Linked DNA regions of Homo sapiens. The protein of the gene in region 2 interacts with the protein of the main gene of each other region in a pairwise test. Each region holds a gene or a part of one and is shown on either strand. Other genes may lie near its edges.

Region 1 (7,887 bases), on a different chromosome or scaffold from region 2:
AAATATATAAATATAAATAAATATAAATATATAAATATAAATATATAATATAAATTATAATTATAAATATAAAATATAAAAATATTTATAATTATATAAAATTAAATTATATTTAATTTTATATAAAAATATAATTATATTTATAAAAATATAAATATAAAAATATTTATAATTATAATATATAAAATAAAAATATAATATAATATTAAAAATATATATATAATTATATATAAAAATATAATTGTAATGTAATATAAAAATCATAATTATAATATTGTATAATTATATTAGATATATTATACTAATATTAGTTATCAATATTCATATAGCATTATTATATATTATATAAATATATTATATTTATATATGTATATAATTATAATATGTATTATATTATTTATATATTATTTATTATAATTATAATTATTAAAAGCATTATTATTAAAAGCATTATTAAGCATTAAAAGCTAATCACTTGTCTATTAGTAAGCATTAAAAGCTAATCACTTGTCTATTCACTTGTCTATTAAAAGCTAAGCTCAGCATTAAAAGCTAATCACTTGTCTAGAGTCGCACAGCCTCCAAGTGGCAAAATCTCAGCATTAAAAGCTAAGGCCTGGCCAGCATGGTGGCTCATACCTGTAATCCCAGCACTTTGGGAGGTGGAGGCAGGCGGGTCACCTGAGGTCAGGAGTTCAAGAACAGCCTGGCTAACATGGTGAAACCCTGTCTCTTTTAAACATACAAAAATCAGCCAGGCATGGTGGCGCGTGCTGGTAGTCCCAGCTACTAGGGAGGCTGAGGCACGAGAATCGTTTGAGCCTGGAAGGCGGAGGTTGCAGTGAGCCAAGATGGCGCCATTGCACTCCAGCCTGGATGACAGAGCAAGTCTCCTTTTCTTTTCTTTCTTTCTTTTTTTTTTTTTGAGATGGAGTTTTGCTCTTGTCGCCCAGGCTGGAGTGCAATGGCAAGATCTCGGCTCACTGCAACCTCCGCCTCCCGGGTTCAAGCCATTCTCCCGCCTCAGCCTCCCGAGTAGCTGGGATTACGGGCGCCCCCACCACGCCCAGCTAAGTTTTGTATTTTTAGTAGAGACAGGGTTTCACTATATTGTCCAGGCTGGTCTCGAATTCCTGACCTCAGGCGATCCACCCGCCTTGGCCTCCCAAAGTGCTGAGATTACAGGCGTGGGATACCGCGCCCCACCGCAAGTCTCCTTTTCAAAAAAAAAAAAACAAACCTAAGGTCTTGGACTCAGAATGTCCAATGCTTGCAACAGCTGCCACCACATCAAGTAAAAATGCTTTTATGTCATCAACCTGGTTACCATAGTTGGCCACAGCCTGTGACTAATGCAAGTTTATGTTGTGTTAATAGTTTATTTTCCTTCACCGGGCAAAAAGGAATTTTCGATCTGACTCAATGGAGGGAGACTGCTTTAACGCAGAGCTGGCCATAGGCAAATCCGCAAAGATGGGTTTCCCCCTCTCCTCCTTAGGCTCCACGCCTTCTCTCTCCTCAGTACTGGTATTCTAGATCCTGTTCACTTGAAAGGAACCATTATTCCAGAACCTCCTTCCATCATAACTGGTCCTTCCTGAGCCTCATCCCTACGGCCTTGCAGGCCAACAGATGAAAAGAAGACATAATTCAGGTCCCCAAAACACATGTGCCTCCTAGGAAGAAGAGTTTACCCAAGTGGTTTAAACAGTGGGATTTTCAGGGCGAGTTGGAAGGCAGGAGGGGTTTGTGGTTCATGCTGAAGGAACTAAAGTGCAAGCTGCACCCTGCTTAAATAAAAGAGGCCATGCCAAGAAGCCACAGCCATTGGTCTTGGGCTTCAGCGTGGTCTCCTAAGGATTACTCTCGAGGCATGGCCAATTTCACTCCCTGCCAGGCCACAGGACGGCATAATGCCCGCTGACCTCACTGCCTCCTGCTACCCCACCATTCTGACAAAAGCCACCAAAGAGCTTGCTATTCCGCTTCTCTAGCCAGAGATGACTGTAGCAGGAATCACCTTGGAGCCAGCACTGCCCAGCCTGGACACTCCATCATCAGAGTCCAGTGAGATCCTGCTGTGTTGGGGCAGCTGAAAGAGAAAGAGAGGCGGAGGAGCCGTGGGAGTCACCACACAGAATGTGGGCTGGTCCCTTGCGCTGTCTCAGGTCCTGACTTCTTTCCAGTTCGAATCCACATGCATCCTTATTTGATGCTCCCTGTGTCACCTGATCTTTACAATCCAAAGAACCACAGTGGGGAGAGCAGATGGGCTCTCCAGGAAAGGGAGGCAGCAGTACACCCGTGAGTATGCTGCGCCAGCGAGGGAAGGGCTGTGCAGCGGAAGGAACTTGTGAGGCTGGGACACCAGGACACTGGGCTTGCTAGCTTATCCCCGGGCTGTCCATCACAGGCCACCTGCGCCATTCAGCACTTGAAATGCTCCTCCTGTGACTGATGGCCTGGATTTCCAATTTAATTTAATTTAAATTTTAAAGCTGAGACTTGATTCAGTTGTTGGAAAAATTTTAAGTATGTTTCCAATAGGTTGGGTATGTGAATCTATTTCGCTGAATTGTAAGTTTTATAAAATCTGAATAGAGATTAAATATTTCCAATGAAAATTTGGCATCAGAATTGAGATGTGCTTTAAGTGTAAGAAAAAAAAATGCAAAATATCTCATTAATACTTTTTTATATTACCTGTTGAAATTATAGTGTTTTGGATATATTGTGTTAAATTGAGAATATATTATTAAAATTAATCTCTGGCTGGGCACGGTGGCTCACACCTGTAATCCCAGCACTTTGGGAGGCTGAGGTGGGCAGATTACTTAAGATCTGGAGCTTAAGACCAGCCTGGTCAACATGGTGAAACCCCGTCTCTAGTAAAAATACAAAAAAATTAGTCAGGCAGAGTGGTGCGTGCCTGTAATCCTAGCTACTTGGGAGGCTGAGGCGGGAGAATCACTTGAACCCGGGAGTCAGAGGTTGCAGTGAGCCGAGATCACGCCACTGTACTCCAGCCTGGGCGACAGAGCGAGACTCCATCTCAAGATAAATAAATAAATAAAATTAATCTCATTTGTTTCTTTTTGTTTTTAATGTAATTATTAAAAAACTTAAAATTATATATGTGGCTCACATAATATTTCTGCTAGACAGCACTCATTTAAATTTCATCTGGGAAAAAAAAAACAGGGAACAAACTGCTGTCATTTGAGCAGAACTATGACATGATTAAAGGAATGATTTAAGAAATATGAACCTAGCAATCATGTGCAAGAGGCAGGTAGAAAGATTTGCAGGAAATCAGGCAAGATATACTGTGGTCAAGTCCAGGCTGATGGCAGAGAGGGAAGAGAAGGGGGAGGGGTAGATGGGTATGAAAGTGGAATGACAAAAGAAGGAATACACAGGACTTAGGGACTGTATGGCACAGGGATATAAAAGGAAACAGGCAAGACTGTTCCACTTCAGTCCTTAAGGAATCCACCTTTTTCTTAGCCTTTTGTTTTTTTGAGATGGAATCTCACTCTATTGCCCAGGCTAGAGTGCAATGGCATGATCTCGGCTCACTGCAACTTCCGCTTCCCAGGTTCAGGCGATTTCCAGCTAATATTTATATTTTTTAGTAGAGATGGGGTTTCACCATGTTGGCCAGGCTAGTCTCGAACTCCTGACCTCAAGTGATCTGCCCGCCTCGGCCTCCCGAAGTGCTAGGATTATAAGCATCAGCCACCATGCCCCGCCATTCTTAGTCTTTTCCGAGTCTGGGCTCTATAATCAAAGAGAAAGTCATTTAGATATGCAAAGAGACCAAGATTCAGATGATTAAACCCAGAAATTGTCTTCTCCCAGGAAGTACAGCTGAGCTCCAGCCAGTCTGTCCCAGGAGGGGAGGACACGATTCAACCACACCTAATAATAACAGAGAACATTCATTAAACACTCAGGTGCTGGGCACTGCTTTAAGCACCTCTCGTATTATTTCCTCATTTATTTCTTCCTACAATGCTACGAGGTAGGTAAAAAAGAACGACCTAACACTATTTAAACTCAGGGGGGTAGAACGTAGCAATTAACATTTCATTCTCATGGCAACAGAGGGGGATGCAATGGAAAGATGGAAAGTGGGAGAGGTTATTATTCAGTAACATGCACTGTGATTTTCCATCACCAGCCTGGAGGTAGACACAGGTTACCCAATCTAGGCTCTGTAAGCACAGTGCAGCACTGCAGAGCCCAGGAAGGCCAGGCTGAGACAGACTGACAACATTATGCGCCACCCTCTGTGCTAAAGCTTCAAACAGCATCTCAGATAATCTTCATAACAAACCTCTGAGCCTGACATTGCTCATTTTAGAAAAGAGGAGATGGCAGCTGGGCATGGTGGCTCACTTCTGTAATCCCAGCACTTCAGGAGGCCAAGGCAGGAGGACTGCTTGAGGCCAAGAGTTTGAGACCAGCCTGGGCAACACAGTGAAAGATGCTGTCTCTCCAAAAAATAAAATAAAACATTAGCTGAGTATGCTGGTGTGCACCTGTAGTCCCAGCTACTCAGGAGGCTGAGGCTGGAGGTGTTGCTTGAGACCAGAAGTTCGAGGCTACAGTAAGCCATGATCACACCACTATACTCCAGCCTGGAAGACAGAGTGAGACTCTGTCTCAATAAAAAATAAATAAAAAATTTTAAAAAAGGAGATGGAAATTCAGTGAGCCTAAGTGACTTGCCCAAGGTCAGACAAAGGCGGTTGGCTTCTAAACTAGGGACAAAGTGGCCAGTATTTGAGAACATGAAGACTGAAACTTGGATGATTCAGGAGCCAGGCAAATTCCCTGGTATCAGAATGCAAAAAACAATCAATGATTCATTATCTCTTCCTAACAGGAGAAAGACGAAGGGTCAGGACCATTTACAACCACTGGTGGCCAGGTGCGGTGGCTCACGCCTATAATCCCAGCACTTTGGGAGGCCGAAGTGGGTGGATTGCCTGAGGTCAGGAGTTGGAGATCAGCGTGGCCAAAATGGTGAGAAACCCCGTCTCTACTAAAAATACAAAAACAAACAAACAAAAAAGGCAGGTGAACGTGACTATTAACTAAGTTCAGACAGGGCCAGGGTGAATGCCTAGTGCAGTGCTTGGCATACAGTCAGTGCCAAGAAATATGCAGTCAATCCTTATTACTCATGATTCCATATTTGTAAATTTGCCTCCTCACTGAAATTTATTTGTAACCTCAAAATGAATACTGGCAGTGCTTTTTGTTTTGTTTTGTTTTGTCTGAGATAGAGTCTTGCTCTGTCACCCAGGCTGGAGTACAGTGGTGTGATCTTGGCTCCCTTCAACCTTCACCTCCTGGGTTCAAGCGATTCTCGTGCCTCAGCCTCCCAAGAGGCTAGGATTACAGGCGCACACCACCACACCCAGCTAATTTTTGTATTTTTCGTAGAGAAGGGGTTTCATCATGTTGGCCAGGCTGGTCTTGAACTTCTGGCTCAAGGGATCCACCCGCCTCGGCCTCCCAAAGTACTAGGATTACAGGTGTGAGCTACCACGCCTGGCCTGCAGTGCTTTTGAGGTCATTAGTGGACACGTCCACAACAGCAAAAAGTGGAGTCACCTGCCACGTACATTCCCAGCTGAGGTCAAGCAAGGTGACACCGAGCCTTCCTGTTTCATCCTTTAAACAAGTGTCACTGTGGTCTATTTAGTGCCACGTTTATGCTTTAGTTTGGTGATTTTACTGTTGAAAATGGTCCCCAAGTGTAGTGCTGAAGTGTTCTCTAGCGTTCCTAACCATGAGAAGGCTGTGATGTGCCTTATGCAGAAAATACATGTGTGTGATTAGCTTTGTTTAAGACATGAGTCATAGTACTGTTGTTGGCCCTGAGTTCAACGTTAATGATCAACAATATATATTAACATGTCTTTAAACAGAAATACACATAAAACGAGGTTATGTACTGATCAGCTGACAAAAATGTTGTGAACAGGAGGCTCACAGCAACTGAATCCTGTATTTCCCCTAGGAGCGATGGTTTGGTATGTGCTAATTCAGTGTCTGCAGTAACTTTATAGAACGTAACTACCATGGTTAATGAGAATCAGCTGTAAATGTGGAACAGGCAGGAGGACCCTTCTTACTGAGCTAACTTTTAATAACAAGAGTCCCCGCCAGCTGGCGAGAAAGCTGCTTGTCCAATTTAAAAATAGCTTGGTAAATCCACAAAGAGTGCCAAATAAATTCTGGAGCAAGTCCAGAATTTATTGTTGTAGATTGCAAACAAGCATCTCTTCGAGTAGACCCGCTGTGCTATCCAATACAAAAAAAAATACACCACAAAATAGTTCATTTTGTTACATATACATATGTATTTTTATAGGTATATTGCATAGAAAAAAGGTCTAGAATGACATACAAAATGTTAACAGTATTATCTCTGAAAGCTGTTTTCTTTTCCCTGACAAAATGCTGAAAGACATATAGAAGAAAGCAATAAGGATAAATATGCAAGAAAACATAACGCTATCTGAAGTCTCATTGCCACTGAGTGGCCACTGAATACCTAAAAAGTGGCTAACTCGAATTGAAATGTGCTAGAAGTGTAAAATATGCGCACGGGGGGTTTTGAAGAGGGAGTTCAAAAAAGAAGGTACAATGTTTCAAGAATCTTTTTTCATTAATAATTTTGTATAAATGATTACATGTTGAAATATTTTTGATATCTTAGGTTGAATAAAAACATTATTAAAAATAATTTTTTTTTTTTGGAGACGGAATCTCGCTCTGTCGCCCAGGCTGGAGTGCGGTGGCACAATCTCAGCTCACTGCAACCTCCGCCTCCTGGGTTCAAGTGATTCTCCTGCCTCAGCCTCCCGAGTAGCTGGGACTACAGGCCTTACCACCACACCTGCTCATTTTGGTAATTTTAGTAGAGATGGGGTTTTACCATGTTCGCCAGGCTGATCTCGAACTTCTGATCTCAAGTGATCCACCCACCTCAGCCTCCCAAAGTGCTAGGATCACAGGCGGGAGCCACTATGCCCAGCCAAAATTAATTTTACCTATTTCTTTTTACTTCTTACATGTGGCTACTAGAAAAATTCTAAATTACATACGTGACTCACATCATATTTCTATCGGACCTGGATTCCTAGTGGAACAATGAACTCAAATCTTGAAGTAGGCTTTTGTCTCTCATTTTCAGGGTAACAGATAGGGCAAAATTCACAACAAAACCAAACAAAACCAAAAAAAGGATGATATCTGTTGCACAGACTTCTTTATCCAGCTAAAGAATTGCATTTGCCATTAGTGGCAAATGACTCAATGTTGGCTTAAGGGATGTAATTGGAAGTATTGTGTGCGACTCCCAGAAGTCTCCTTAAATTGTAGGTGGCTTGCACTTCTCTCTTCCCCCCTCCTCAAATCCTGTTGCCTGAAAGATGGATACAATGGCTGATGCTCTTGCAGTCATCTCAGACAAGGAGTTTGAAGGTCACAGCATAGACATGGCAGGGCGGTAAGCCAGAAAGATTCTTGACTTACCTCCAAATTCCTTCTACTGGAGAAAGAAATAACTTTCTATCTTGTTTATGCTAGTGTTATATTGGGATTTTCCATTATACATAGTGATTGGAAACTGACCTTTGAGTTATTCTGGAAGGAGTCTATCAGCAGAGACAGCTTCTTCTGCAGTTCCTGCAAGTCCCTTGAGATACTCTGGGGCTCCTCTTTTGCCATTCTGAAGCTCACTTCAATCTCTTTAGGGATGAATTATCCTACCAGTAAATTCTCCAGTGCAGCCCGCGGTCCAATCTCTCATGTCGCTCTGTCTCTTGCTGTTACCAGAGGAAACAAAAGCCGTTAGTGGTCTTCATC
Region 2 (7,887 bases):
AGGAATGAGCAGAGGGCGGGCAGAGCCCTTGCTCCTTGTGGGAGGTAGACAGGTCTCACTGCATACATGGGACAGATGTGTGCACCCACACACATATACATACACACACACACACACACACACACACACACACACACAGCCCTTTGAACCCAGCACTGGCCTGAGGAAGGTGGCCCCGGAGGAACCCTGAAGGCACATGTCCACCAGGCTATAATGCCCCTGCCACCCTGGGGCTCAGCTGGCCAGACTCCCAGGGGTGGGATGCTGCTGACCCAGGAGCCCACCAAGTCCCCAGGGCAGTACTGGGCAGGGCCCAGAAAACCCCACGCCCAGCCCACCAGCCTGCCACTCCTGGCCTCAGATGCCACTCCCGGCCTCAGATGCCACTCCCAGCCTCAGACGCAGATGGGCCCGAGAGGTGTTCCTGGGAAACAGTTCACTTAGCAAGACCCAGTACCTGCGCTCCAGAAGCTCAGCGCAGGCCCAGCCTGGGGTTGGCCCCAGATGGAATATCTTCCACACCCGCCCGCTTCTGCCAAACCCCACCTGGGCTAAGCCAGGCCCGACCAGGCACCTGCCCGATGGCTGAGAGCCAGCCTCACGGTCAGAGAGGCCAGCGGGCTGAGGCCACAGGGCAGAGGGAATATGGGGGTGCACATCCTGGGCACCAGCTCTCTGCATCCTCCCTGGGTAGGCCTGGCTCCGGACAGCCTGGCACCCAGGGCAGTGGGGACAGCTCTGTGTGGGGAGGTGACTGTGGCCTCTGCCCAGTTCTTAAAAGGCAGAAGCTCCCTGAGGGCAGGGCTTGGGCAGGCCAGCAGGAGCACCTGAGTGGGGCTGAGGTCAGACCCACTAACCCACTAATGGGGCTGGGCTGTGGCTGATGTTGACGGGGCCACACCAGGGAGAGGGTGGGCACCCTCGGTGCCAGGGAGAGCCTGCTCTCCCCACTTCCTTAGCACCAAGGCCAGCAGGGGCGGGGGGTGATGGGCAGAACCTAGGGGCCCCAGCAGGCCCAGGGAGGAGGGGCAGCCGAGGGGCCTTGAGGTGGCCTGTCCAAGGTTCCCAGGGCCAGCAGGGAGCATCCCCCACCCAGCTGTCCAGTCACTGCCAAGGCTGCAGTTCCAGGTACCGGGGTGCACCTTAGGAGCCCTGTGGGCTTCTTCAGAAGGCAGGGTGACAGTGGGCGCTGCACCCTAGGCAGCAGTGGGAGGTTGCTGGCAGCGGCAGGCTGTCCCAGGCCCTGGGGCTCCACCTGCTAAGAGAGCTGGGGGAGGTCCCTCTGCTCAGTGCCCAGGTGGCAGGGTCCCACTTGCCCCTCCCCTCAAGCCAGGACCAGCATCTCCAGGGGAAGCTGCTCCCAGGTCACAGCAGGTCACAGGCAGCCCTGTCTGTGGTGTGAGATCTGCAGACCCACCCAGCAGAGGAGTAGGGCTGGGTAGTGTCCACACAGCTGCTGCAGGCTCTGCCTCAAGTCCAGCAGCCCAGACCCTCACACCAGCAGCCAGTGGCTCCTGGCTTAAGCCAGTCTGGAGAAAGGAGCAGAGGACTCCAGGTGTAGGGACACGTGCAAAGGCCCCTCTCCAGGCTGTGCCTCAGCGTGGACAGTCCAGGCCTCACTTGGACCCACACAGAGCCAGAAGAGGGGACAGGGAGGGAGGGGCGCCCAGCCCTTCACAGCTCCCCCTCCAGGGTCTCCGCGAGCTTCTCCTCATCCGCCTGCTGCCTCTGCTGCTGGATCCTGGCATAGGAGATCGCATCGCCCCTGGGGAGAGAGAGAGGCAGCGTCACGTGGAGCACCAGCCCCATGCCCACAGCCCTCCTGACCACTGCCCGGTTCCTGCCCTGTGACCCAGGTGTGACCTGCAGGCATTCTGATTTCCCCAGAGACAACTGCTGGGGTGGCAAAGGCCTGTCTTGTCCCCTCTGAGAATGGCCCAGGCTCCCTGGGATGCTGGGCTGCGAAGGAACCAGCCTCAGTCTGGGCTCTGCAGGAGAGAGGGTGGCAACTGAGTACAATGCCCGGTGCAGACCTGGGAGGGGAAGGGGCTCCCACCAGCCATGTTTTTGCTATCCTTGCTGCAGGCCGTGACGGGGCAAGACTGGGCCACGCAGAAGTGTTGTAAGTCCTCTGTCTTCACCCACTCGAGCTGAGCCCTGGAGGCACCAATGAGTTACTGGGACCTCTGCCTCGGTCTCCACTAGCTAAAAGGGGCCACTCTCAGATCCTCCTCACTGAAGGACTTCGGGGGGCGGAGGGAGGAAGGCCCTGCCCAGGGGCTGGGCCTGGCAGACGCACTTTTTGCCCAGAGCAGAGAGTCCGTACAGCACCCCCGTAGCAAAGGCGATGGCGTTGCCCAGCAGCGTGGTCAGGGTCAGGCTGATGACGATGGGAACGACCGCCATCCTGGGGGGAAAGCAGAGGTCAAGGGGGCACTCCGGCCCCACAGCCACCACATCCTTCCCCGCTTCCCAGACTCGGCCCAGCATCCTTCCTAGACACCCAGGGCACAGGAAGGATCCCCAAAAATCAACTGAGACACAGCTTCAGAAAGTCCTTCATCAGCCCTGAACTTGTCTGTAAAACTGTTCCATTCTGGGAATAGGATCCAAAGCTTTCATCAGATTTTTGAAGGGGTCTGTGATCCCAAAAAGAGCTAAACAGTAACGAGATGGTCCAGTGCCCTCACTGTGAGAAAAACTGGCCAGAAAGAGCCTGTGACAGAGAATCTGGCTTCCCATCCAGGACCTACTAGCTTCGCGGGCAAGTTACTCGGAATCTCCACCGCGGAGAGGGGATCAAAGCTTGTCCGAGGTCAGTCATGTTACCTACACAATGCTGACCACCACAGGCACTAAATAAATGCTCTGAGTTATAGAGTAACACCAGCCACATCGCCACAAGTAAGGTCCCTGGAATTCAACCACATGGAACACAGGGTCTCATCATGGGAGGGCTGCAGGCTGCGGGGTCTGCGGGGTCGGCCCAGACCTTGCTGCAGTTTGGCGTCACCTGGTGGCAGGGTCCACTGGGGCTTAAGCGTCCCCGGGGCTGATTCTCCATCCTGGCTGGAATTTCCAGGCCAGCAGCAATTCCTGGGCTAACTGGGCCAGGAGGATACCTGCAGCCTGGAGGCCAGCGCTCTGTCCTGTCGCCTCCCTAGAGGAGGCTGCCTGTGCAGGAGGACAAGACTCGTGGCCAATTGCATTCTACCTCAGTTTCCATTCTTGTAGACATGTGGTTGTGAGATTTTTCTGTCGTTAAAAAATTTCAAAATGATAAAATAATAATAGAAATTACAAAGAAAAAGACCACGGCGGGGAACCTTCTGACAAAAACAAAATTAAAGGCAAACAAGAGCCTGGAAAAATAGTTGCAGGAAATACAACCAAGGATCATGAAATCTTTAATACAGAAAACACACTGAACTTGCTAAGCAGAACACTGAGGTTCCCACAGGTTAAAAAGTAAACTCGAAAATTTTCATATCAGAAAATGCAATGGAAACACGTGGGAAAATATTTTTCCCTCTTAGATAACAAATAGATAAATGCGAATGTGAAGTGGTGTGCAGCCCTGGGCTGGGGTGGGGGCGGGGGAGAGACTCAAGGGACCTCTTTGGAAAGCAACGTAGCCACGCATCTTAAAATATTTTTAATGATCAGAATCTTTGACCCAGTAATTCCACACCTGAAAATAGATATTAAGGAAATCATCATAAACACAGAAAAAGTTTTAGCAGACACATGTTTATCACACCTCGATTTACACCAGTTAAGAAATTAAGAACAGCATGATACATCCAGCTGAATGAATATTCCTGTATTGAAAGAATGTTATAAAGTCTGTGGTGATGTTCAAATGCTTATATCATTACTCTAAGTGAAAAAAGGCAGGATACAAACTTATTCATAATGGTTATAACTGTGTTAAAAGCAGGCTTTTAAAAAATGCCTGCAGACAGGAAGCACACACATCAGAAGATTAGCAGGCAGCGGGCTTCGAGTAACATTGTTCTATATTCCAAATTATTGTGAATGAATTTCTATGATGTCTAGCATTTTTAAAATACAGTTTTTTGAACCCCTAAGGACATGACACTGCGTGTAGATAAGAGCTTTGTGATCCTGTGTTCTTCGTGATTTAGATATGGCACAAGATGGCTCCAGAACTAAGCATGTGGCTTGTGCTCTTACCATCAAAACTACCGGGCCTCTCTGAAGGGGAAGCAAGCTTGCATCTAGACTTCTTTCTAAAGATAACCTAGACAATAATGAATACAGCTGCCACCAGCCTCCTATGCACTAGAGGCATTATTCTAGGAGTTTCCGTGTATTAAGCTTATCCTGAAATTAGTTCCTTCTTATGACTGAGAGGAGAAGTATTACATATTGATTTCATTGTTAGAAATGGGAAAATTTTTAACAAGTGTATTTAGAGGGCAACCACATTTTCTGCTCTGCAACCTGCTTCTCCCCCTTCACGTCAGGACATCTAGATGAACCCACTCTTCGGAAAGGCTGCAGAGAAACATGTCCTACAGACCTACTATCATCTGGTTAACAACTCCCAGTGGACGGACCAAAATTCCAGACGCTTCCCACTTTCTCTCCACTGCACGGATGCTGCCACACATGCTCATATACCTCTGAACCTTCCAGTGACTACGGCACAGCGACAGCTGAGTTCCTGGGCGCAGAACCACTGGGGCACGTTTTGGCAGCTATGAGCAAATCACTGTGCACAAAGGCAATCCCAGTTTACACTTCCACAGAGAGGAACTGAATACACTGCCCACCCTCACCTGACTTTTGGGTCCTATTTTGTCAGTGGGGTTTTGGGGAACTGTGTCACGGGACCCTGCCCAGCAACCCCTCACCCGCAGTAGAAGACAGCCTTCTGCCAGGAGCGCAGCCGGTCCACCTTCTCCGCCACTGTGTTTGCAAACTCGATGAACTGGCAGCAGAAGGGCGCCTCACACAGCAACAAGATGAAGGCATTCATGCTGCAGGGACCAGGGCAGGAGAAGAGCAGCGACTGACAATCCCAGGAGGATGAGGGCGGCCCCCAGTGCCAGTGCCATAAGGAATGCCACCTCCCTCACCCTCCTGCCCTCATCCCTCCTCCTCTGGGAAGCCGCCCGGCTGCTCCAGGGCACCTGCTCGTACCCCTCGGAGAGCCTCTGCTGAAGACTCCAGCACTCCCCAGCTGCTCCTGCACACCCATCTCCCCAGCTGAACTGAACACTCCTAGAGGGAAGCCCCTGGGCTTCTGCTTCCCTTTATCCTCCTCCTGTGTGACATGGAGGAAAGGGGACCCCACATCATGGCACTGCTACAACGCTGCGGCAGGTTCATCCACAGATGGAGCACTGGCAGCTGTGTCCTCTGTCTGCTGTTAGTATTATCGCCATGGCCACCAAAAGCCGTCAGTGGCACCAGCACCAGGAAGGCTGCCCCACCAGGGAGGCAGAGAGCTGGAGCCACGCAGTCCCAAAACAGTCACGGAGAGCTGCCCACACACCTGATGCCACCGGCCCCAGGCCCGGGGACACCCAGGGGAAGCCCACGCTGGGGAGGAAGAACTTTAGCAAGTCCTTGCATCCAGCCCTATGTTTGGGGTGGGAACAGCTAAGCCACTGGTGACGGAAGGTGTCTGCTGTGGTCTTGGTATTCTCTATGCATGGATAACAATCAGTTAGCAGACACTGAGCCAGGCCCTTCTGTCCCCAGGCCTGGGAGAAAAGTGCCATCATTATGCCTGTGTAACAGAAATGCAGGCTCAGGACACCTAAGAGCCACCCCAAGCCCGGGGCAGGCACTCTCTTCACAACTCTTAACCACTGCACCCGCCCCGAGCCTCCCACACACCAGGCCTCCAAGCACGGGCTCACTCTGTGCTGGGCCAGCCCTTCCACTTCAAACTCGGCCAGGCTCCGACTCCACCCCCTGAAGCTGGGCTGGGCGCCTCTCTGTCCATCCCCCTTCCCTATCCACCACTGGCCAGCACAAGCACTGAGGACCCCACCACAGCAGGCCCCCGAGGCTCTCCACTGGCCATAGGTCACTGGGGACGGGACCTGAATCTCGTCTAGCTCTGTACCCCTCAAGGCACCAAGCCCCATGAGGACACTCATCAATTCCTGGTGCACCGCCACTTCTCACGTGCCCCAAGCCACACGGGCCTGCCCTCACCCCGCCTTCCCTTCCGATGGGATGGCGAAACCCTGGCAGGAGGTGGGCATGGAACGCACATGAGGGTGTTCTGACCACGGGTTCCCGTGACAACTCCGACCCGCCTCTCCCATCTATCTTTGGCACAGCTCCGAGCTCGAGTGCCCTCTCCCAGCAGACCATTCAACCCAGTCCTCAGCCAGCCCCAATGAACAGCCTTCCCCACCCCAGTCCTGGGAGCTCCCAGAGGGCGAGGGCCCCAGTATAGTGGACTTGGCATCTGCAGTCTCAGTGGATGCTCCAGAAATGTCTGGAGCACTGATGGCCTTGCCCCTGCACCGGATGAAGGCCGGGGTGGGCATTCCCTGGGCCTTGACCTCTCATTAGGAAACTAAACATGGTGGGGGTATGAAGGGGAAGAAGCCGCATGCTGTGGCCAGAAACTCACATGCCCGAGGCACCCAGGCTGGAGCCAGTAGCCATGGCAACCACAAGGATGCCCACTCCCACGGCCCCTGCCACTCCTCTGTCCCGGGAGGTGCCCAGCAGATTCCCGACCAGCAAGACCCCCGGGGTGGGACGGCCATGCATTACTCACATCATCCACACGCCGGCCGCAATGTTCAGAGGGTGGATGGTGATGCAGTTGAAGAGGCCAGAGATCGCGCAAGCTTGAAACAAGAGACACGGGCAGGAGTCAGCAGGGAGGCAGGCGGAGCCCGCTGGGAAGGCGGCCTTGGGAGATGACTGGAAAGGACGAGAGTCTCTGCGGATGCTCAGCACACAGTTCTCACAGCACCCAGAAGCCTGCCCTCTATCGTCTGAGACAGGTGAGGAGACGCAGAGAGGTGCAGTGCCTTGCTTGCCCCAGGCCCCACAGCAAGGTGGCAGCAAGGTGGCAGGTGGATCTCACAGCATCCTCTCCCCGTTTCAGGGCTCAGAGGAGCTGGCCCTCTGACCCCAGCTACATCAATATCCACCTCAAAGGGAGGTTAGGATTAAAGAAGGATTAAAGAGTGAATGTCCCTCAAGGATTCAGGCCAGTGCTCCCCCAAGACTCAGCCTTCGGTAAGGGTCACTTGCCACCATTCACAGGGCCGGCCACACAAGAAGTCCTCTGACTCAGAAAATGTGGCTTGGATTTTGGTTGGGACAAGGGGTGCCTCTCTCAGAACAGAGATGGGAACCAGGTAAGACTGAGCAGCAGTTCCAGCTCTAACTTCCTCACCAGCCCTGTGCCACTGGCACGCTATCTTCATCTTCCTAGACCCGTTTCTCCTCTTGCACATGAGCAAGTCCCACAGCCCAGCCACCCACCGCTGAAATGCCATAAGGCCAGGAAGGGGAGGGGGCATCGTTTTCCACCCCAGAACGTGGCTTCTCTGATGCTCAGATGTGCAGCCTTGACGCCCCGCCTCCCAGCTGCACCTCACCAGCAGGGTCTCTTGCACCCAACTCCCTCCTCCACCCACAGCCTGCAGCCTGGCTTCACCAGGAACTCCAGGAGCCTTCAAGGCAGGTCCAAGGAGGTGGCTGCTGGGCAGGGAGCAAGCCCAGGCCATCACTGAGGGGGGCCTTGGAGGCAGCAATTAGCACCCAGCTCATTAAACTTGCAGCAGCTCCTCTGCACCTGATCCCTCCACCTGGGTCTGGAATTCTGCTGTTTTCCATTTTCCCAGGTAACCTTATGCAGACAGCAGGCAAAGAAGCCAG

What was found.
Region 1: the proteins of CACFD1 (region 2) and LDAF1 interact in binary tests that used the Homo sapiens proteins (3 or more experiments, as listed by UniProt).

Annotation. Positions count from the first base shown.
Region 1 is NC_000016.10:21,161,045-21,168,931, reverse strand, and holds part of LDAF1 (lipid droplet assembly factor 1), read right to left. Parts: exon of another isoform or gene 7,848-7,887; 5' UTR 7,750-7,847; coding exon 7,654-7,749; intron 2,093-7,653; coding exon of another isoform or gene 2,021-2,092; intron 1-2,020. UniProt on the Homo sapiens protein: Plays an important role in the formation of lipid droplets (LD) which are storage organelles at the center of lipid and energy homeostasis. In association with BSCL2/seipin, defines the sites of LD formation in the endoplasmic reticulum.
Region 2 is NC_000009.12:133,462,441-133,470,327, reverse strand, and holds part of CACFD1 (calcium channel flower homolog), read right to left. Parts: intron 6,846-7,887; coding exon 6,773-6,845; intron 5,007-6,772; coding exon 4,881-5,006; intron 4,092-4,880; exon of another isoform or gene 2,408-4,091; coding exon 2,300-2,407; exon of another isoform or gene 2,086-2,299; intron 1,989-2,085; coding exon of another isoform or gene 1,864-1,988; intron 1,857-1,863; exon of another isoform or gene 1,766-1,856; coding exon 1,675-1,765; coding exon of another isoform or gene 1,617-1,674; 3' UTR 1-1,616. UniProt on the Homo sapiens protein: Transmembrane protein which mediates synaptic endocytosis and fitness-based cell culling.